4 linked regions of the Homo sapiens genome follow. The protein of the gene in region 1 purifies or fractionates together with the protein of each later gene. This does not show direct contact. Each region holds a gene or a part of one and is shown on either strand. Other genes may lie near its edges. The genes, in order: DDAH1, NENF, ADA and PGLS.

Region 1 (6,092 bases):
TTTGACATTTAAACATTGACTTTTGGCCAGGCACAGTGGCTCGTGCCTGTAATCCCAGCCCTTTGGGAGGCTGAAGCAGGAGGATTGTTGAGCCCAGAAGTTCAAGGCTGCAGTGAGCTATGATCATGCCACTGCACTTCAGCCTAGGTGACAGAGTGAGACCCTGTCTCTAAAAACAAACAAACAGAGAAGTTGCATTTTTTCCCTAAAAAGTAAGTTGGAGTCATGTAAAATTTGATAGGCCTCTAACGGCTTATTTTTCTTTAAAGTATTAAACATAAAAAATACTCAAAATCTAAAGATACAACATTATTAGACAATTAACATTATTTACTGACTTTCTGTAAATACAGTTTCCTTCACTAAAACTTAGGCTTCCTGCACACAGGGCCTGTGTTTTATTAATCTTTGAGGCCCCATTCAGGCAAACACTGGGCTTTCACAGGAATACTTTCTTGAATTCCAAGGAAGAAAAGTCATTAAATGAAACACGATGTTTTGATTAAGAAGGAATTTCTCAAGATTTTTATAAAAACAAACAAAACAACAATAACAATAGAAAGAGGCAGGGACAGGGAAAGGGAGAAGAAGAAACAGCTATAAACCACCTACGTTCATAATAGAACTTTTGGGACCTTACTGATTGGGAATGCTTGTGAAACACCAAATATGTCATAAGGAGGGAGAATTAAGGTTAATCTAAAATAATGAGAACACTTGTTCAACAAAATATTTGCTACATGCCTATTGTATACAAGGCCTTGGTGACAAAATGTTGACCAATACAGACATGATCCTAGCCCTGACAGGTTACATAATAGTGGGAGATACAGAACGGTAAACAGGCAATTATCACGTGGTATGATATATATAAAAGGAAGTTTATAGCGTTTTAGGAGCTCATAAAAGGAGAACCAATTCCATGCTTGGAAAAGTGATGTCTAAGTGGGACTAGAGCTTTGGAGTTCTCTAAACCCGAGTTCAAATCCTGGTTTTACAGGTTACACTCTATAACCCTGGCCAATTTATTTAATCTCTCCAGGCCTCAGTTTCACCAACTTTAAAATAGGAATTATGATAGTATTGAGTTCAAAGAGTTGATGTGAGTATTAATGAAATGCACATCATAAATCTGGTATGGTGTATGGCAAGTGGCAAGTACCCAATAAATATTAGCTAATAATAGTGATAACAGTAAGCTGAGAACTTAAGACAGATAAAAGGGAAGAGAGGAAAGAGGAAGAGTACCCGGACAAAATAAAAGCAATAGTCTGGTGAGCTTCAGTGAAAGAACCTCGCTCGATCCATGGATCAGGGGATGCTTGGGGTGGGATCAGAGGTGAAGCTGAAGCTGGAAAGGCAAGCACAGCCCAGCTCAATGGGTTTATCTAAGCTCAGTGGGGGCCCCTTGAGAATTTTAGTCAGAGAAGGGACAGGATCAGATCTGAGTTTTTAAAAGACCAGCTTGGCTACAGTGTGGGAATGGAATGGAAAATTGACAAGACTAGAGGCAGAGATCAGTGACAATAATTTTAAAATAATTCCTTGGCTACTGTGGATTTTCACAGTTGGGAATGCAGACATCACATGAAAAAAATATACAGCAATCCATAGAGGGTCTTGAAGTAACTATCTTCTTGTATTAGCATTTCATTCATCATTCATTCATTCATCCACTCACTCAACAAGCATTAACACCTACCAAGGCGGTGAGCTGGTGCCGTGAGAGATTTCTACAAGCATTGCCCTACATGACTCTGCCCTCCAGAAGCATCCCATCCAACACTGACTGCCCATATTCCTCTCCCTGCCTGGGAGGCCTGTTACCCTGGTGACCCAGATCATGTGCAATGCAAAGGCAGGCACCAGCAGGAGACCCAAACCCAGAGGCAGTATCACATAGTAGAGAGATGTCACTAACTACATCAGTGTATAGCTGACTTCTTATTAACGGAGTAAATCTTCCCTGATCCATAGTTAAGTGAATAATAATAGTCAACATTCATCAAATGTCCTGTCCTGTGAATTTCAGGTAGATTAATACATCTATTACAACAACTTTGTGAAACAGGTATTATTATGTCCACTGTATAGATGCGAAAACTGAGGCAAGAGACACTCCCTAAAGGTCACAGAATTAGAAAGTGGTAGAGCTGAGATTCAGTCTAATGTTTTTATCCACTACACCATGTGACTTCTGGCAGTGGGCCACCAGGCTGATATCAGAATTAAACCAATTTAAAATGTATGCTTCAAAATCTAGGCAGGGGAAAAAGATCACTGCTCACTTAGGTATCAGGGAGGCCAAAGCTTGGAAGCTTTTATTATAGGAATAAAATGAAATGGGTGAATAAATATGGTGACAGTCTCTTGAGAAGAAATTGGACTACTCTCATCAAAAGAGTGCCATTTTGAAAGGGTTTTGAAATCGATTTTGCTCTTTTAAGTTCAAACCATAGCTCTGCCATTTGGCCTAGAACGCATTAGAAAGTATTCAAATGGGATTACATTCCTTATCAGTTTAAAAGAGTGGGACATCTCACAGACTCAAAGATGGAGAGGTGTGGCAAAGACATCAAAGGGCTAGCAGAGATCTGTTACTCTTTTGGTTTTCTGTTAATGGAGGGTGAAATAAAAGCTGATTATCTCGATGAGAAATTAGTAGAATATGCTTATTTTCTCAGACCATGTGGCATTCCATCAACCAAGTAGTGGAGCAGGTGAGGAATAAGCATATTTTATCATAAGCTCTATGAGGCATTTCCAATGTGAAGTGAATACAGACAAAATAGAAAAAAAATTCTTAAATCTCCAGAAATGAAAGAAACCACTAGCTTCTTGCAATGCCACTGGATGCCAATAGCAACGGAGTCTTGAGCCTGGGCTCTTAACTGGCAATGAGAAGAATCCCAGGCCAGATGGCATTTTAAAATCCAATCTCACTCTATTTGTCTCTCCCCACTAACCTACATTGCACTTAAAGCAATCAGCCATTTCACAAGCTGCAGTATTTCAAAGTAGTTACAACCCTTGAGAACAGAAAAACTCTCTTAATTGCTGTGAGTTTAAAAATATAGAGAATAAAAATTATGGAATTTGTGAAACAACCATCTCTAATTAAACACGCTCGCTAGCACACACACCCAACACCGCACAGAGTACAGCTTTTCAAACCTAGCCCATTCATGCACACATTTAGCACAGCTCACCAACAAAACACTTTTCCTTCCATTCATTCACTTACTAGTCCCGTTCTTTGGGACTCACTCGCCACCACTGAAAACTAACTTGAGAAGCCCCAGGTCTGTGGGCACCGACACCCCGTTAATTCATCCAGCTTGTCCTGCTCCGAGCGCCAGGCAGGACTTGGGGGCTTCGGTGTCACGACTGGCGCTGCCCCCTGGAGGGACGCCCAGCCTCCACCCGCCCTACCGGAGCGGCACCCCTCGCGGCCCTCGCTCCCTGGGAAACACTCAGAGTTGCACTGTCGTCGCTGCCGTTTAATTTTCACAAATAAAAATGCCCGTGAGACGGAATCCCCCGCCCACCCACCTGCCCGAGACCGTACAACCACATTGAATCGGATCCTCCAGAAGGCTGCCGGCAGCCGGGAGGTGTGAACAATGAACTTCTCTCTGACTCTCTGACACACACACACACACACACACTCGCCCCCCGACGGGAAGTTGTGAACTACTAGCCCGAGGGCCAATGGCGCGACTCCCCAGGCAACACGGCGGCCGGCGGCGGGGGAGGGCCTGGCGCGCGCCCCGGCCGCGCCCCTCGAGTCGGCAGTTACCTCCTTCCTCCGGCTCGGCGCCCCGGGTCGGGTGATGAGGGCCGTCTCCTCGCACACCACGGCCACGTCCTCCACGAAGACGCAGTCCGGAAGGCTCTCGTCGGCCGGCAGCTCCACCACCTGCAGCCCCAGCTTGCTGCCCAGCACGCCCACGTAGAGCTGGTGCTGCCGTTCCGCGCGGGCGACGTCCACCTCCTCGCCCTTGGCGCTTCTCAGCGCGTGCTGGCCGAGCGACTCGGGTAGCGCCCGCACCACGGCGTGGGTGGCCCGGCCGAAGGCGGCGGGGTGGCCGAGCCCGGCCATGGCTTCGGGAGGCTTAGGGGCGGCGGCGGCGGCGGAGGCGGCCGGGTCCTGCCGCGGGCAGCGCGCGCTGAGCCTGCGAGCGCCCGTCGGCTCCTCTTGGCAGCCGCTGAATGTGGTGCAGAAGGAGCCCAGCTCGCGCCCGGAGCCCTGCCCGCGCGACTGAGCATGCCCAGAGCTCCGGGCGCCGGCCCGCGCGCATCCCGCGCGCCCACTCCGGCGCTCGCGGGTCTCGCGCCAGCCCAGGCGGGAGTTGTAGCGGCGAGCGCCGGGCGAGGAGTGGGGCCAGGAGAGGCGGCCGGGGAAGCAGCGAGGGCAAGAAGTATGCGGAGGCGGGGGACCTCGGCGAAAAGCCACCGCTACCCGGACCTGGCGGTACCTGTGTTCTGTCGCAGGTGCACACCTCCCATCGTCCCCAGCGCGGACTTGGAGAGCCGGCCTCGGTCTGGACAGAGCAGCTGGAGGGCTTCCTGGTCTTTACCTGAACAGTTTAAACCTTGCGTGCTTACAAAGTCTAGCCCACTTTTGAAGAGCTATAATGGTTTACAGATTCTTCATGTTGAGCTTAAATCCCACGGGTCCCAGTTCTGTTTTCTGGCCTTACCTAAAGTACAAGTTTTTCTTGTTTTGTGTGTGTTCGCGTGTGTGTGTGTTTTCACAAAACAGCATTTGCATATCTGAAAACAGTTCTAATTATCTATGCTGCCTAACACCATCCTCTACCCCCCACCCTAAACCCCCTCCAGTCCTGGAGCCCAAACCACTGAAAAGTAACTAGTGATTTGGTTTCCAAGTCCCTTCAACATTCTGGTCAGCTTCCTTTTGATACACACCAATTTGCTTGTATCCTTTTAAAATCATAGTATCCGGAAAATAAACAATTCTTCCTGTGTGGTCTGACCAGCACAGACTACAGCAGCACCCTTGTTCCAGATGCTGGGCCTCTATGAACACTGCCTAAGCCTGTATTCACTTTTTTGGTGGTCTAGGGCCAAGGCCCAGGCTACAGCCTTCTTGCCAGAACTCTGATCCCAGCTTTTAGGAAACTCTGGATTTCTAGGAGCAGGTCTCTCTGAGCATCCTAGAATGGTTGCCCCAACTGAGCCCAGAGATGTGATCTGCCTTCTCTCCCCTCCCACAAGGGTGGTGTGAATTTATAAATGAGCTTCAAAATTCTCAGCTTCACATTTGAGGAGTTTTTTTTGTTTTTTGTTGTTGTTTTGTTTTGACGGAGTTTCACTCTTGTTGCCCAGGCTGGAGTGCAGTGGCACGATCTCGGCTTACTTCAACTGCTGCCTCCCCAGTTCAAGCAATTCTCCTGCCTCAGCCTCCTGAGTAGCTGGGACTACAGGTGCACGCCACCACTCGCGGCTAATTTGTATTTTTAGCAGAGACAGGGTTTCACCATGTTGGCTAGGCTGGTCTCGAACTCCTGACCTCAGGTGATCCACCCGCCTCCACCTCCCAAAGTGCTGGGATTACAGGCATGAGCTACCACGCCCTGCCCAAATTTGAGGAGTCTCAAGGACAGCTCTGACACTGACATTGGGAAGTGGGACCAAAAGTAAAATAACAAACCTTTAAGACCGACTAGGTAGTACTTCTAAAGCAAAATTCTTAGGGGATCCAGGCAGCCCCATTAGCCCCAGTTTAGCGTCAGAAATCACTTAATGGTGTCCTCAGATGGAGGATTTCCATCAAAGTTACAGGTGAAAGTTGATCTTTTACCTTAAGCTTGCCCTGGTTAAATATAAAATTTATTTATTTTTAAATTAGTTCATTATTTATTCTTTTTTTTTTTTTTTTTTTTTTGAGATGGAGTTTCGCTCTTGTTTCCCAGGCTGGAGTGCAATGGCGCGATCTCAGCTCACTGCAACCTCTGCAACCGGGGTTCAAGTGATTCTCCTGCCTCGGCCTCCCGAGTAGCTGGGATTATAGGCATGTGCCACCACGCCTGGCTAATTTTGTATTTTTAGTAGAGACGGAGTTTCTC
Region 2 (5,548 bases), about 130 Mb from region 1:
CTGTATTTTTTTTTTTTTTTTTTTGGAGACAGAGTCTTGCTCTGTCATCAAAGCTGGAGTGCAGTAGTGTGATCTTGGCTCACTGCAACCTCCGCCTCCCGGGTTCAAGCAATTCTGCCTCAGCCTCCCCAGTAGCTGGGATTACAGGCACCTGCCACCACACCCGGCTAATTTTTGTATTTTTAGTAGAGACAGGTTTTCACCATGTTGGCCAGGCTGGTCTCAAACTCCTGACCTCAAGTCATCTGCCCACCTCAGCCTCCCAAAGTGCTGGGAGCCACCATGCCTGGCTGTTTCTGTGTCACTTCTATTCCTGTGTCTGCATTTATACTCCCAAGCCTTCCACCCACCCTCCACCTTCTCAGTTGTCATTTCCCAGGCCTGAGAGTCTGTGCCTGGGGGTTGTGCTATCCATGGATGTTCATCTACACTGGGTCAGAACTCACCACCACAGCACGCTCTGTTTACTGATAAGACCATTCCTCTGCATGGCATATGAGGTATCTATGTCACTCTGAGGCCTCAAAAATGCTAAACATTCTTTTCTTCCCCTATAATATGACTTCCTCTTCGCACTTACACCTTCAAGTAAGTAGTTTAAGGAGGAGATAAAAATTTTACTGTTAAAAAAAGGAGATTGCTGGGTGCAGTGGCTCACGCCTGTAATCCCAGCACTTTGGGAGGCCGAGGCGGGTAGATCACCTCACGTTGGGAGTTCAAGACCAGCCTGACCAACATGGAGAAACCCCATCTCTACTAAAAATACAAAAAAAAAAAAAATTAGCCAAGCATGGTGGCACACGTCTGTAATCCCAGCTACTCGGGACACTGAGGCAGGAGAAATGCTTGAACCCGGGAGGCGGAGGTTGCGATGAGCCAAGATCATGACATTGCACTCCAGCCTGGGCAACAAGAGTGAAACTCCTTCTCATAAAAAAAAAAGATTGTTTGCCGGGCGTGTTGCCTCATGCCTATAATCCCAACACATTGAGAGGTCAAGGCAGGCAGATTACCTGAGGTCAGGAGTTCTAGACCAGCCTGGCCAACATGGTGAAACCTGTCTCTACTAAATATACAAAAAAAAAAAAAAAAAAAAAATTGGCCAGGCGTGGTGACACACGTCTGTAATCCCAGCTACCCTGGAGGCTGAGGCAGGAGAATAGCTTGAACCTGGGAGGCAGAGGTTGCAGTGAGCCGAGATTGTGCCACTGCACTCCAGCCTGGGCAACCGAGCTAGACTCCGTCCCCCCCCCACAAAAAAAGAAAAGAGTGTTAGTGATAAGATGCATGTTTTTGTTTATCTTATGTATGTGAATGTTATATTTATATGGCTGTTTGCCCATAGAAAATAAGTGTCGGCTGGGCATGGTGGCTTATGCCTGTAATCCCAGCCCTTTGGGAGGCCGAGGCGGGCAGATCACTTGAGGTTAGGAGTTTGAGACCAGCCTGGCCAACATGGTGAAACCCTGTCTCTGCTAAAAATACAAAAATTATCTGGGTATGGTGGCGTGTGCCTGTAATCCCAGCTACTCAGGAGACTGAGGCAGGAGAATCGCTTGAACTGGGGAGGTGGAGGTTGCAGTGAGCCGATATTGTACCACTGCACTCCAGTCTGGGTGACAGAGTAAGACTCTGTCTCAAAAAAAAAAAAAAAGGAAAAAGAAAAGAAGTATCAAGGAGAAAGCCACAGAATGGAAGATATGACAAAATACTGGGGTTAAATGATAGCTGTAATATATTTTTAAAATTGATATAAATACATAATCCCACTTGATAAATAATCAAAGCTGAGGAATAAGGAAACCTGGTAAAGGAAAGGCGGTAAATCATCACAAAGAAAAATGCCGTCTGCTGGCTTGGAAATCCAGGCCGTTTCAAATGACCCGTGTTAGATGAGGTGGAGCAAGTGTCCACAGAGTCAATGGCAGTCCTCTAGGGCCTGTCTTTAGGAGCCGGTTTGGAGTAATAAAAGGCAGCCCTCTGCTGAGCTCCTGTGTCGTGCCTGCTAGGTATTACGTACACTCTTTTCCTCAGCATTCCCGAGGCAAGTGGGCGTTACCCTCATATGACAGGCAGAGAAGCAGGCCTGAGTGGTTATGAGGCAGTGAGGTGTGTTTCCTTGGGCAAGTTGCTTAGCTTCTCTGAGCCTCAGTAGCTCCTCTGTCTGTTAAATGGGATCATGAAAACCCTTCACCATAAGCTGCACAAGCGCAAGAACACTAAGGCCCACCCCAAAGAGAAGGCCAAGCAGCAGGTGCTTGCAGAGCCTGAGATTCCTATGGACCCAGCAGCGACTCCCACCCTCGCCTGGGCTGTGAGCCACCTGGCTGATGCCCCTGCACCTCTGATGGCACTGAGACAAAGGAGAGATCTTGTCTTGGGTGTCTTGGGACTGTACCCATCGTCCCAGCCTGAGCCCAACTTGATGGAAGCTAGAAAAGTCATGCCATCCTTTTTTGTGTAATTCTTTCTTGGTGGGGAAATTCTGAGGTAACATTTTATGCCTGCTAATAGAGCCAAAAAAAAGTGTAAAGCCCATTGTTAGTAGAACGGTGGGGAAACAGCATTGCTTACATATCTCTAGCACTATAAATGTTGTTACAGGACAAACTAATAAAATATAAACAGTGATTAAGTTTTCATATACTTAGGCCCAGGAATTCCATATATTGAAATAGGGCACTTTCCTATGCATTCACTGGGTGGAGAGAAATTTTTAAATAAAGGCCTCAATGAAATAAGTCACCAAATTAGAAAGTAATTGATAGAAACATGTATTCATAATGCTGCCATTTATAGTTCTAAGGATTGGAAACCACCCAAATACCCAAAATAGAAAGCTAGCTAAACAAATAGGTAGACAATATCACTAATATAAGATGGGGCCCTACGCCGGGCATGGTGGCTCACGTCGGTAATCCCAGCACTTTGGGAGGCCTAGGTGGGTGGATCACCTGAGGTCAGGAGTTCGAGACCAGCCTGGCCAACATGATGAAACCCCATCTCTACTAAAAAGACAAAAAATTAGCGGGGCGTGGTGGCGGGTGCCTGTAATCCCAGCTACTCAGGAGGCTGAGTCAGGAGAATCACATGAACCCGGAAGGTGGAGGTTGCAGTGAGCTGACATTGCGCCATTGCACTCCAGCCTGGGCAGCATGAGTGAAACTCTGTCTCAAAAAAAAAGATGGGGCCCCATGGAGCTGTTTAAATGACAGTCATTTTGGTGGAAATGTTTATATGAGGGAATGTTACCTGTAAGAAGCAAAATATAAAATAGATTGCTCATATCAGTCACATCCGTGTATGTCTATTGATGAAGAGGAAAGGAAATTTGGACTGATAAGTAATTCATCATTTACTATTCTTTTGAATTTTCATCTCCATGAAGTTGCTTCTGTTCCTGATTTTCTTTTTTTTGAGACGGAGTCTCACTGTGTCACCCAGGCTGGGGTGCAGTGGCATGATCTTGGTTCACTACGACCTCTGCCTCCAGGGTTCAAGCAATTCTCCAGCCTCAGACTCGCGAGCAGCTGGGATTACAGGCATGTGCCACCATGCCCGGCTAATTTTTGTATTTTTAGTAGAGATAGGGTTTCACCATATTGGCCAGGCTGGTCTTGAACCCCTGACCTCAGGTGATCCGCCCGCCTTGGCCTCCCACAGTGCTGGGATTACAGGCGTGAGTCACTGTGCCTGGCCCCTGATTTTCTCTATAAAGGAGAGAATTGCCACATTCTTGTCATGAGACTTTATGACTTTTCCAAATTTCTGTGTGCGGGCATGACGCTGCCCAGGCAGGTGGCAAGCTCGCCAAGGACCAGGCTTAACAGAAAGCCTTTGGGACTTGACCCACTGCTCTTTGCTCAGCTTGTGATGGGAGAAGATTTTACTAAGTTGCACTGGAAGAGCTGGCTCTTCCCTTCCTCTTCACAGCTTCTCCCCTGCTTTCTAGGAAGATCAGCCCATCTACTTGGCAGTGAAGGGAGTGGTGTTTGATGTCACCTCCGGAAAGGGTAAGTGGTGTGGCATTTTGAATCTTCATTTCCAGGGAGCACAGAAGCCAGAGTGAGCAGCACTTGGAGGTGTGAGGAAAGGGAGGGAACATTAGGCAAGTCCTTTTCATTCCATTTTATTTTATTTTATTTTTTGAGACGGAGTTTCACTCTGTCACCCAGGCTGGAGTGCGGTGGCACGATCTTGGCTCACTGCAACCTCTGCCTTCTGGGTTCAAGCAATTCTCTGCCTCAGCCTCCCGAGTAGCTGGGATTACAGGCACCACCACCACCGCTGGCTAATTTTTTTGTATTTTTAGTAGAGACGGGGTTTCACCATCTTGGCAAGGCTGGTCTTGAACTTCTGACCTTGTGATCCACCCGCTTCGGCCTCCCAAAGTGCTAGTATTACAGGTGTGAGCCACCACACCTGGCCTTCCTTCCATTTTAAATGAGCAGATTGAGTTAATCTTTGTCAGTGTTTTACTTCAGCAGGGGCTTTTTTCCCCTGATAATGACATGCTTCTACTCAAAAGCCTTTCATGACTTTCCATTGCCTGTAGAATTAAATTCAAACTTAATGATTTACCCTAGTTGAAGCAATGAGAGAAGTGTTCTTTAGTAAAGAGTTGGCATTATAGAACATTACAGAACATTTTAGTGCCATTTAATGTAACTACTAATGATATCTTGGAGATAGTTTTGTATTGGTTTATCTATTATTTGATAACAAACACTGCTGAATGGGAATAGATTTGGCTTCCACCAACATTTAAGAAGAGGGAACATTTTTCTTGTTTGCATCTTTAATTTTTTTTTTGGAGACAGTCTCGCTCTGTCGCCCAGGTTAGAGTGCAGTGATGCGACCTTCTCCAGCTGCCAGGTTCAAACGATTCTCCTGCCTCAGCCTCCTGAGTAACTGGAATTACAGGTGCACGCCACCATGCCCAGATTTTTGTATTTTTAGTAGAGATGGGGTTTCACCATGTTAACCAGGCTGATCTTGAACTCCTGACCTCAAATGATCTGCCCATCTTGGCTTCTCAGAGTGCTGGGATTACAGGCGTGAGTCACCGCACCCAGCCTGCATCTCTAATATTTTTAAGAGACTATTTTCTCAGTATTAACACTTAGGTGAAAAAACAGAACGAGAAGGGGGCTAGGCACAGTGGCTTATGCTTGTAATCCCAGCGCTTTAGGAGGCCAAGGTGGGCAGATCATGTGAGCTCAGGAGTTCAAGACTAGCCTGGGCAACATGGTGAAACCCCATCTCTTCAAAAAAAAAAATACAAAAATTAGCTGGGCATGGTGGTGGCACATGCCTGTAGTCCCAGCTACTCTGGAGGCTGAGGTGGGAGAATTGCTTGAACCCGGGAGGTGGAGATTGCAGTGAGCCAAGATTGTGCCACTGCACTCCAGCCTGGGCAAGAGTGAGACCCTGTCAAAAAAAAACAACAACAAAAGAGGTTGTAGGGGTACTATTCTCATTTTATATTTTCTGAAAATCCCTGCTCAGCCTGCATGTGTGACTTACTTCACATTTAGAGTAAGTGGAA
Region 3 (5,548 bases), on another chromosome or scaffold:
ACCTGGTAGGCCTGGACATGTCCAGGCAAGAGGCTGCTTCCTGGGATGGTCTCATCTCCAGCCAGGTCAATGGCTACCACGGTCTGCTGCTGGTACTTCTTACACAGCTCCACCACCTTGGGGGACCAGTCTGTGGGCGAGATGCCCACCCAGGCTCTGTCACCAGCACCATGGAGAGACCTCCCAGCCTACCTGCCTGCTGTCCCACCCAAACCCCCCATGGGAGGCCAGCACAAAACAGGGCTCAGTGTCTTCAAATCCTAACTGCTATGTCCTAACCACATGGCCTGCGGAAAACTGCTCTGCTTATGGCCTCAGTTTCCGCCCTTTTCAGAAAGAACCCTGCCAGCTATTGCACAGGGTCACGGCCAGGCTTTGCCGAGGCCATGTGTGTAAAGCACCAAGGACGGGGCCTGAGCTCAGTAAATGACACGGACCCTTCTCTCACCTGGTGTTTCCAACAACACTCATGGTAGGCTTATTCCCATGCGCAGATGAGGAAACGGAGGACCGTTTAACACGTCATCTAAAATAGAACTCACACTAGTATTGGGAAGTATCTCGCTAATGTATTAGGTACTCTTAACCAATAAAGTTATTCTGAAGTGTTTAAGAAAGAATGAATGAACACAGGCTTTGGAACTAGATGTCCCCGGATACAAATCCAGGGTTTGTGCCTTGCAAGAGGCTGCACCTCACTCCACCTCAGTTTCCTCATCTGTCAAATGGGACTAAGCAATGGTAGTTCTGCTTTGCAGGCTGCTGCGAGGATTAGAGGAAATGCGTGCAGGTAGCTCTTTGGTTCTTACTAATCCTGAGGGTAGAGGAATGAAGTAAGTGTGATCATCTCCTTGTGACAGTGCACAACTGAGGTGTCTTGGTGCATAACCAGAGCAGCAGTGTGACCTGCCCAATATCACACAGTGAGGCTGTGCACCATGAGGCACAAACTCTAGAGATCTGATCTGCGTCAGTGACAAGGGAGACCCCTCAGAAATCTTGGAAATCAGACCTATTCAGGCCCAGACAGGATGGGGCCTGGTCCACTGGGTCTCGAGGGAGGACTATGGGCTGATCAGAATCTAGCCTAGATTTTTTTTTCAATAGTTACGTTCCTATTTGGTGTTGAGCTTCCTGCAGGGTGGCTATAAAGGCATGGTGTCCCTGGGGAGAACATCTCCAGAAGTTCTGAGCCTGCCTAGGAGGTCTCCAGTTGTTTCATGAAGCCCCAAGTTCATGCCAGTGGGCTCAAGGGGACACCATGGGGCTGTGGGGCACAGGGGAGATCAGGTACAGCCCCACTGCTAGGCCAGGAGGTCAGGGCCAGGGTGAGACGGGCGGCCCTGGGCAGGGCGGTGATCCTACTCACTGGGCTGGTGGCGCATGCAGCACAGGATGGACCGGGCCTTGACCCCGAAGTCTCGCTCCCCCTCCTGCAGGCCCTGGCCCACTAGGGCCACCACCTCGTCTGGGGTGAGGTCCCCTCTGTGTGAGGAGAGGAGTAGGGATGGGCCTGAGGCAAAAGGAAGGCCTAAAGGGCAGCTCTGGGACTGGGACAGAGGAGGAAGAGGAGGCTTTGGGGAGGACCCTCCTCCCCCACTGACCCACTGCCTCAGAGGAAAGACTGGCAGAGATGCCCCCAGGCCCTAGCATGTCCCTCTAGCTCTTAAAGCAGCTGGGTGCTCCTAGATCTTAGTGGGAGGTGTGGGGTGTCAACATGGCCCTCCCCACCCCCAGATGGACAGCATTGCTAAGCTTGGGCCTGCCATGATGTTCACATTCTATATGTATCAGAATCATGGCTCAGAAAATGGGGCAGGGTGGTTTTGTGATACCACTTAGAGATCCATGGGGGCCCAGGCAGGGGGCTAGAAATGGGCCAGACTCACTTCAGTTATGAAGTTAGAGCAGGACCTTTAGGGCCTTTAGAGATCTGATCAGCATCAGTGACAAGGGAGACCCCTCAGAAATCCTGGGTGGCTAAGCAGGTTAACATTCCTGGACAGCAGGCCTGTGGCCAGAGCAAGACACAGCCAAACACTTGTGCCCAAGGTAAGAACATAACGGCAAAGGGAGGATGGGAACCACGTCTCTTGTGACAGAGTTAAACCCATCTTTCTGAGGCCATGGACCAGACTGGGGGCAAGAACAAGGTCTTGCTTGGGTCAGGGATTCCCAGCAGTTCGCCCTTCCAGTCTCAGAGCTGAGCCTCCCAGCCACACCCTCAGCATGGCCCCTTCCAGGCCCATCACTCACTCAGCCTGGTTCCAGGGGATTGGCTCCACTTTGGAGTTGGCCAGCAGGTGCGGACTGTACCGCACCTCCACATACACCACGCCCTCTTTGGCCTTCATCTCTACAAACTCATAGGCGATCCTTTTGATAGCCTCCCGGCAGCCCCTGGGAAGGGAAGAAAGGGGTTGGGAACAACCTTCCCCAAGTCCCTTGGGAGCTCCAGGAGCAAATGACATCCCCAACCCTTGGCAGATTAAACCCACTTCATCCCCCAGACCCAAGCTCTGGGCATCCACTGGATAAGATCCCAGACACTGGGCAAGTCCTATCAGCTCTACTTTGGAACTGCATACCAGTTCTCACCCCTCCATCCTGGCCTGAATCACGCCATCTCTAACTGGCCTCCCTGTCTCCATGCTTGCCCCTGTCATCCTGTTCTCCACCCAGCAGTTGGGGCAATCTTTTAAGAAGGTAAATCAAAGCATATCACTTCTCCCCTCGAAGCCCCAGTAGCTTCCTGCCACGGAGAGTGACATCGCAACTCCCAGGTCCTGCCCACAAGGCCTGCATCCTCCAGGCCTTGCCAGCCTCCCCAGCACCTTCCTTCTCCCTCATTCCCTGAGGCCACCGGAGAAGACACAGGCCTGCTCTTCCCCGATACTGTCCTACACTGCGTCTCTCCCGCTCCCCTGGTTTAGAGCCAGCTGAAGCTTCACCTCCTCAGAGAGGCCTTCCCTGACCACCTTATCTTTTTTTTTTTTTTTTGAGACAGAATCTTGCTCTGTCGCCCAGGCTGGAGTGCAGTGGCGCCATCTCAGCTCACTGCAGCCTCTGCCTCCTGGGTTCAAGTGATTCGTCTGCCTCAGCCTCCCAAGTAGCTGGGATTACAGGCGCATGCCACCACGCCCGGCTAATTTTTTGTATTTTTAGTAGAGACAGCGTTTCGCTGTGTTAGCCAGGATGGTCTCGATCTCCTGACCTCATGATCCGCCCACCTCAGCCTCCCAAAGTGCTGGGGATACAGGCGTGAGCCACTGTACCTGGCCCAGACCGCCTTATCTTAAAACGGCCCCTCCACCATTCTCCTGGGCTTTCTTTTTCTCCCAGGTCCTTATCACTACTCAACATTGTGTGTCATATGGCTTATCAGCCAGTTTGCTGTATTCCCTACTAGAATGCAGTCTCCATGTGGCAAGGACCCCTCTGTCTTGGGATGGCTGCGACCTCTCAGCTGAGGACCATGCCTAGGACAGAGTAGCCCAATATTTGTTGGTGATGGAGTTAAGGCTGGCAGGGAAGAGAAATGAGAGAAAAGGACACAGCTGGACAAGTCCAGAGGGATGCCTGGATGTGGGAGACACGTGGGATACAGTCATGGACTTGGATCCTTGTGCCCACACTTATCTGCTGTGTGACCCCTGGTTAGTCACCCTCTGACACCTAGGTCAAGGAGTTATTGCGGGGACAAATGAGTCAAACTTCATAAACCCCACCCGGGTCAGTGCTTGGAGCAGAGCGGACAAATGCTCAAAACATTTTCGTTGTTATTACTGCATGTTTGTTCCAGAAGCAAGGCACAAATTGGCCTGCCAGGGCCACTGTGTTGATCACGTAACGGTGGACTGTGCTTAGCTGGAAGTTCCCACCATGAAGAGTGAAAATGAAGTGGTTACTAGAATGTGTGAGGGAAGGCACACAAGTGCTGGGAGAGCCCAGCGTGGGAAGAAAGTGCCCTGCCCAGGGGAGATCAGGCCACTCTCAGGAGAAGGGGTCACCAGAAGTTCTTGCATCTTCAGGATGAGGATGGAGGCCAGGCGCAGTGGCTCACGCCTGTAATCCCAGCATTTTGGGAGGCCGAGGCGGGCAGATCACCTGAGGTCAGGAATTCGAGACCAGCCTGGCAAACATAGTAAAACCCCATCTCTACTAAAAATACAAAACCATTAGTTGGGTGTGATGGTGGGTGCCTGTGATCCCAGCTACTTGGGAGGCTAAAGCAGGAGAATCCCTTAAACTGGGAGGTGGAGGTTGCAGTGAGCTGAGATCGCACCACTGCACTTCAGCCTGGGCAACAGAGTGAGACTCTGTCTCAATAAATAAATAAATAAATAAATAAATAAATAAATAAAGCAGTCATGGAAATTTCTCTCTAGTACTCGCCCATACCCCTTCTGGGCCTTTTCGGTACCTAGTGCTGTTCCCTGGCGACTCAAGACAAGAAAAAGAAAAAGCCTTTTGGAGAATCTTCCCCACATCTCCCCGCCCCCACCCTATATTCAGGCCTCTCCTCCCCTCACAACACGAAGCCCTGAACTAGGAGATAGATGGCCCGGGTTCAAGCCCTGCACTGCCTCTGACCCTGTGTTCTTAGCTCCCATATTCTGCCATTTCTCTGTAGAACTTGAAGCAATTTCAGTCCATCACACCCACATCTCAGAAGGGAAAACTGAGGCCTAAAGGCACTGGAGAGACTCACTAAGTGTACACAATGGTGAGAAAGACAGCTGTGGTTTCAGAGCAACTTCTCTGGCCCCCACAGGCTGAGGGACAGGCCTGGTCCTAGTCATAGGGATCAATGCTGCCCTAGGACCTGTGGGTTGGGGGCAACTCACGCGATAGCAGGCATGTAGTAGTCAAACTTGGCCAGGAAGTCTGGAAGGGTGAGCGGCTTGTCCATGCCAATGACGTTCAGCAGCCCCTCTGCTGTGTTAGCTGGGAGGGCGATCCCTCTCCTCCTGGAAACAAAACAGTGAGTGGTGGACCAACCCGGGGCAGGATCCAGGCAGGCCTGACAGGCCAGGATGGAGCAGACTCAGGAGCGCCAGCCTCCTTGCAGGACCACAGCAGGAGACATGGGCGTCTCTCAGTCCAGCTGCTCCCACTGGACAGATGGGGAAACTGAGAACCAGGACCGGAATTTTTCCAGCACCTTCTACCCCCAATGCACAAGTCAGCAAATCTCAAGGGGGATAAACAGGTTGAAGTGTGTGTGTGTGTGTGTGTGTATGTGTGCACACATGCACACACCCCCTCCATATCCTTGGTTGACTGATGCTTGGAGACAAGGAAAGTGCCAGGTCAAGTTCATGGCTTCCTCCTCAGCCCCAGGAGCTGGCTCAGCCAGCTGGTCCTATGCCCAGTCAGGGGTTATCAGGGGCAGTAACTGCAGCATCACAATTCCCAGGGTAGGGGCAGGCATCAGGACTTCACCCTCCATCTGGCTGGCACATCAGAGGCTTGCCCAGCCCAGCGCACTGGGAGAGGGCCGGTGGAGGCTCAGGGGAGGGGCCCAGTGGGCCGCCAGCCAGCTCAG
Region 4 (5,548 bases), on another chromosome or scaffold:
TCTCAGCACTTTGGGAGGCCAAGGATGGTGGATCACCTGAGGTCAGGTGTTGGAGACCAGCCTAGCCAACATGGCAAGACCCCATCTCTACTAAAAATACAAAAATTAGCTGGGTGTGGTGGCGTGTGCCTGTAATCCCGGCTACAGGGGAGGCTGAAGCACGAGAATCGCTTGAATGTGGGAGGCAGAGGTTGCAGTGAGCTGAGATCATGCCACTGCACTCCAGCCTGGGCGACAGTTGAGACTCTGTCTCAAAATAAATAATTGTGAAATGCTGCAGAGTGCTAGGGAATAGGGAGTGAGCATTCGTCAAGGGCTATGGGGTGGGAGGTCCTGAGAAGGTGCCATTTGAGCTGAGAGCTGGAGCATGTGCAGGAGCTGGCCATGGTCAAGCTGTGGCAAGAGGGCTCAGCTAAGGCCAAAGCCGTGTGATGGGAGCAAACCTGAAGCCAGGACTTGCTCCTTCTGCCGGTTCTCTGTGAGGGGAATCATATCGGTTCCCTAGGGCTACATAACGAATGACCACAAACTGAGCGGCTTAAAGCCACAGGAATTTATTCTCTCACCGTTCTGGAGGCCAGAAGTCTGAAATCAAGGTGTTGGTGGGGTCACGCCCCATCTGAAAGCTCTTTGGGAGGATCCTTCATTTTCTCCTCATCTTCTGGGGGCTCTGGGCGTTCCTTGGCTTGGGGTCACACCATTCCAATTCCTGTCTCTGTCTGCACATGGCCTTCTTGGATTCTGTGTGTCTTCTCATCTTATATAAGGACGCCAGTCATTGGATTTAGGGCCCACACTAATCCACTATGACTTGTTCTTAACTAATTACATCTGCAAAGACCCTATTTCCTTCCTTCCTTCCCTCCTTCCCTCCCTTCCTTCCCTTCCTTCCTTCCTCCCTTCCTATACTTTCTTTTCTTTTCCTTTCCTTTTCTTTCTTTTTTTGAGATAGGATCTTGTTGTGTTGCCCAGGCTGGAGTGCAGAGGCATGATCGTGGCTTACTGCAGCCTTCAGCTCCCGGGCTCTATCAATCCCCCTGCCTCAGCCTCCTCAGTAGCTGGGACTACAGGTGTGCACCACCAGGCCCAGCTAATTTTTTTTTTTGAGTTGGAGTTTCACCCTTGTTGCCCAGGCTGGAGTGCAATGGCGCGATCTCAGCTCACCACAACCTCCGCCTCCTGGGTTCAAGTGATTCTCCTGCCTCAGCCTCCCAAGTAGCTGGGATTACAGGCATTCACCACCACGCCCAGCTAATTTTATATTTTTAGTAGAGGTGGGATTTCTCCATGTTGGTCAGGCTGGTCTCGAACTCCTGACCTCAGGTGATCCGCCTGCCTTGGCCTCCCAAAGTGCTGGGATTACAGGCATGAGCCACCGTGCCAGGCCGCTAATTTTTTATTTTTGGTAAATACGAAGTTTCACTATGCTGCCCAGGCTGGTCTCAAACTCCTGGGCTCAACCGATTGTCCCACCTCAGCCTCCCAAAGTGCTGGGATTACAGCCGTGAGCCACCATGCCTGGCCATTTTCTGTTGTTTATAAGCCTCGAGTTTATGGTGTTTTGTGATAGCAGGCTGCATAGATTAACACAGGGACCTTGGACAAAGCAGAGTGGTCTTTCCAACTATGGATACGATTGTGTCCCTCCCCAGCTCACACACCCTCCTTGGCTCCCCAATGCCCTCAGTGTGGAGCTCATACTCCTCAGGTCAGCATTCAGGGCAGTCAGCCCCTGCGTTTACTTCGTGGCTCACCTTAGCATTGCCTCAGCTCACTGAGCTAGACTCTGCACAAACACGAGGCACCGAGACATGGACGCCATCTCAGAGCAGACCAGGGCCCCTGGGGCGCCTCTCAGTGGGATAGGGCTGCAGCTTTCTCCTTGATCCAAGTGCTTTTGAGTTAAATCTGCTGCCAACGACTCCACCATTCACAGGCCAGGGCATCTACTGTGCGCTAGCCACAGGTGCTGGGCCTGGGCAAGCCTGGCCCCCACTCCCTGTAGTGGGGCAGGTGCAGGCGGGGGTGGCTGCTCGGAGGAGGTGGCCTGAGGGATGTATATGAGTTTCCCAGGCAGCCTTAGGAGGGAGGGTGGGGATGGAGAAGGTTACCCTTCTCCATGGAGGGTGGTGAGGGGCTGAGTTTTATCCCAAGGGCCGTGGGACCCTGGAGGCTTTGAAACAGGACAATGGGCTGGCTAGACAGGTGCAGGCTATGGCCAGGAAACCCCCCAAATACAACGGAATTGAAAGACTCCTGTTGGAATGCTGGCCCCCGCAGGAACCACCATGATCCCGATTCACCCAGGAGGGCCACCCTCCCGTCCAGCCCCCCAAGAGCAGCAGGGCTCCCTCTTGCCCTTGAACCTCCTCTGCCCTGACAGGCGGCGTCACCCAGGGCTCAGGATCCTGGCTTCCAGCATTCCAGAGGTGACTCACCAACCAAAGTGTCACTCACCAACCGAAGGACCTTGCACAAATGCACCAGCCTCCCCATGCCTCAGTCTCCCCATCTGTAAATGAGTGTTATGACGGTACTGTCATAAACTCCCTGGAGGATCCAGGTGGTCACGTTACTGTTGGTGACATTGTCCCTCTGTTGGCTGCAGACGCATCTTCTCTCCAGACTGCCGATCCCAGAAAGCCAGGTGATCACCATTAACCCCGAGCTGCCTGTGGAGGAGGCGGCTGAGGACTACGCCAAGAAGCTGAGACAGGTGAGCCCCGAGGAGCGGCCGCAAGGGAGTCACATCCACGAAGCGGCCACACCCCGGGCAACAGAGCGGCCTTCTGATTGTCACCAGCAGGAACTGCCCCAGGGATCACTGGCAGATCCCTTTGAGGAATCCCCTCTTCGAGGCCACAGCCCTGCCCTGGGGAGCCTGAAGGCCACTCGGCCTCTGTTGCCCAGGTAACAGGCCTGGGTCCTCACATCTTGGGGAAATATGATGGGTATGGCTATGGCTTTGATCACAGGCTACATTGAGCACTGTTTCCTGCGTTACAGCTACTTGTATTTCTTTTTTTTTTTTTTTCTTTGAGACGGAGTCTCACTCTGTCGCCCAGGCTGGAGTGCAGTGGCGTGATCATGGCTCACTGCAAGCTCCGCCTCCCGGGTTCACACCATTCTCCTGCCTCAGCCTCCTGAGTAGCTGGGACTACGGGTGCCCGCCACCACGCCTGGTTAATTTTTTTGTATTTTTTTAGTAGAGACGGGGTTTCACCATGTTAGCCAGGATGGTCTCGATCTCCTGACCTCGTGATCCGCCCACCTTGGCCTCCAAAGTGCTGGGATTATAGGCGTGAGCCACCATGGGCCTTTTTTTTTTTTGAGATGGAGTCTTACTCTGTCACTCTGTCACCTAGGCTGGAGTGCAGTGATGCAATCTCAGCTCACTGCAACCTCTGCCTCCCGGGCTCAAGTGATTATCCTACCTCAGCCTCCCAAGTAGCTAGGACTACAGGTGCCTGCCACCACGCCTGGCTAATTTTTGTATTTTTAGTAGAGACAGGGTTTCATCATGTTGGCCAGGCTGGTCTTGAACTCCTGACCTCGTGATCCACCTACCTCGGCCTCCCAAAGTGCTGGGATTTCAGGTGTGAGCCACCATGCCCAGCCACAGCTACTTGTATTTTTTTATCTGACAACTGTTTCTGTGTCCTCTGAGTCTCCCCTGCCCCTGCCACCTACAACCTCTCAAGGCTGTCTTCTCCCCACGCCCAGGCATTCCAAGGGGACTCCATCCCGGTTTTCGACCTGCTGATCCTGGGGGTGGGCCCCGATGGTCACACCTGCTCACTCTTCCCAGACCACCCCCTCCTACAGGTGAGCACACCAATGCGGGGTTCCACCCTAGTCCTGAGCCCAGTCCCTAACATCTGGGACTTCCAGAGGGAGAGCCACCTGCCGGGTGGGGTGTCTAGAGCCAGGGTTCAAGTCAGCCTCCACCAACATACCTGCCTGCTGGGCTCAATCCTTTCAGGTCTCAGTTGAGCCCCTTAAAACAGGGACCTTAAACTACCCACCATGGGATTGTTAGTAGGATGGGATGGAACAGTGGCTGGACCAGGCCTGGTGTGTGTAAGTGTCCAAGAAGCTGAAGTGACATTGTCCTTCTGCCTCCATCCCTGGGCTTCCTCCCCAAGGAGCGGGAGAAGATTGTGGCTCCCATCAGTGACTCCCCGAAGCCACCGCCACAGCGTGTGACCCTCACACTACCTGTCCTGAATGCAGCACGAACTGTCATCTTTGTGGCAACTGGAGAAGGCAAGGCAGCTGTTCTGAAGGTAACAGCTGAGGGTTCTAGTCCTGGGAAGTTCATGGGCATGTGGGCCCCAGGGACAGAAAATGGCCCCAGACATTATTGTGCTGAAGCATCAGATCTGAAGAAAACTCAGTCATTCTTGGGTTGAAAGGTAACTTGAAATTGCAATTAGAAAAAAAGGAAAAAAAAAAAAAAAACCCCAGAAAATTGCAATTAAAGGCTAGTTAGGTATTAACCGCTATGAAATGAAATTGATGAGATGAGGCCAAAGCTGCATTCAGAGGTAAATTAATAGCATTCAAATGCATTTAAAAAAAATTATTAAGTAGCAAACTATTGAAATAAATCAAGTGCTTTCCTGTAGAATTAGAAAAAGGACAATAATATAAATCTACAAAAGTCAGTGGCAGGACTAAGTGAAATTAAAGTCAGAAATTAATGAGTTGGTTAATATATTTTAAACTTTAATGGTAAGTAGATCTAAAAGATAGAAAAGCTCCTGACAAGGCTAATCAAGAGAAAAAAAAATCACGTGGTATTATGAATAAAAAAAGGTACTGTTATGTAAAGTATTTTAGGAAAATACAAATTCATTACAGCATTAAAAATAAACTAAATAATTAAAAAGGTTTTAGTTGCCTTCATTGAAAAGACCAACAACTACAGAAGAAACTGGAAATATATTTTTATTTTTTTTTTGTTTTTTGTGTTATTGTTGTTGAGACAGAGTCTCCCTCTGTCGCCAAGGCTGGAGTGCACTGATGTGACCTCAGCTCGCTACAATCTCTACCTCCCAGGTTCAAGCGGTTCTCCTGCCTCAGCCTCTTGACTAGCTGGGATTATAGGCGCCTGCCACCAGGCCTGGCTAATTTTTGTATTTTTAGTAGAGAGGGGGTTTCACCATGTTGGCCAGGCTGGTCTCAAACTGCTGACCTCATGTGATCCACCTGCCTTGGCCTCCCAAAGTGCTGGGATTACAGATATGAGTCACCGTGCCTAGCCTGGTTTTTACTTTTCTAAGTGGTTGGAAAAAAGTCAAATGAAGAGCCAGGCCATGCTTATCATCCCATCTACTCAGGAGGCTAAGGCAGGAGGATTACTCGAGCTCAGGAGTTCGAAGCTATAGTGAAATGTAATTGCAACTGTGAATTACCACTGCACTGGGGAACATCACGAGAACTCATCTCCAAAAAAAATAAATCAGGCGGGGCGCGGTGGCTTATGCCTGTAATCCCAGCACTTTGGGAGGCTGAGGCAGGCGGATCACCTGAGGTCAGGAGTTCA

Evidence for each region.
Region 2: the proteins of DDAH1 (region 1) and NENF fractionate together in Homo sapiens (co-fractionation; one large-scale study listed by BioGRID). This does not show direct contact.
Region 3: the proteins of DDAH1 (region 1) and ADA fractionate together in Homo sapiens (co-fractionation; one large-scale study listed by BioGRID). This does not show direct contact.
Region 4: the proteins of DDAH1 (region 1) and PGLS fractionate together in Homo sapiens (co-fractionation; one large-scale study listed by BioGRID). This does not show direct contact.

Annotation. Positions count from the first base shown.
Region 1 is NC_000001.11:85,460,944-85,467,035, forward strand, and holds the start of DDAH1 (N(G),N(G)-dimethylarginine dimethylaminohydrolase 1), read right to left. Parts: upstream 4,217-6,092; 5' UTR 4,103-4,216; coding exon 3,800-4,102; intron 3,657-3,799; exon of another isoform or gene 3,577-3,656; coding exon of another isoform or gene 3,553-3,576; intron 1-3,552. UniProt on the Homo sapiens protein: Hydrolyzes N(G),N(G)-dimethyl-L-arginine (ADMA) and N(G)-monomethyl-L-arginine (MMA) which act as inhibitors of NOS. Has therefore a role in the regulation of nitric oxide generation.
Region 2 is NC_000001.11:212,438,613-212,444,160, forward strand, and holds part of NENF (neudesin precursor), read left to right. Parts: intron 1-3,952; coding exon 3,953-4,013; intron 4,014-5,548. UniProt on the Homo sapiens protein: Acts as a neurotrophic factor in postnatal mature neurons enhancing neuronal survival. Promotes cell proliferation and neurogenesis in undifferentiated neural progenitor cells at the embryonic stage and inhibits differentiation of astrocytes.
Region 3 is NC_000020.11:44,624,200-44,629,747, forward strand, and holds part of ADA (adenosine deaminase), read right to left. Parts: intron 4,971-5,548; coding exon 4,848-4,970; intron 2,401-4,847; coding exon 2,257-2,400; intron 1,486-2,256; coding exon 1,370-1,485; intron 131-1,369; coding exon 3-130; intron 1-2.
Region 4 is NC_000019.10:17,513,565-17,519,112, forward strand, and holds part of PGLS (6-phosphogluconolactonase), read left to right. Parts: intron 1-2,608; coding exon 2,609-2,716; intron 2,717-3,723; coding exon 3,724-3,825; intron 3,826-4,145; coding exon 4,146-4,286; intron 4,287-5,548. UniProt on the Homo sapiens protein: Hydrolysis of 6-phosphogluconolactone to 6-phosphogluconate.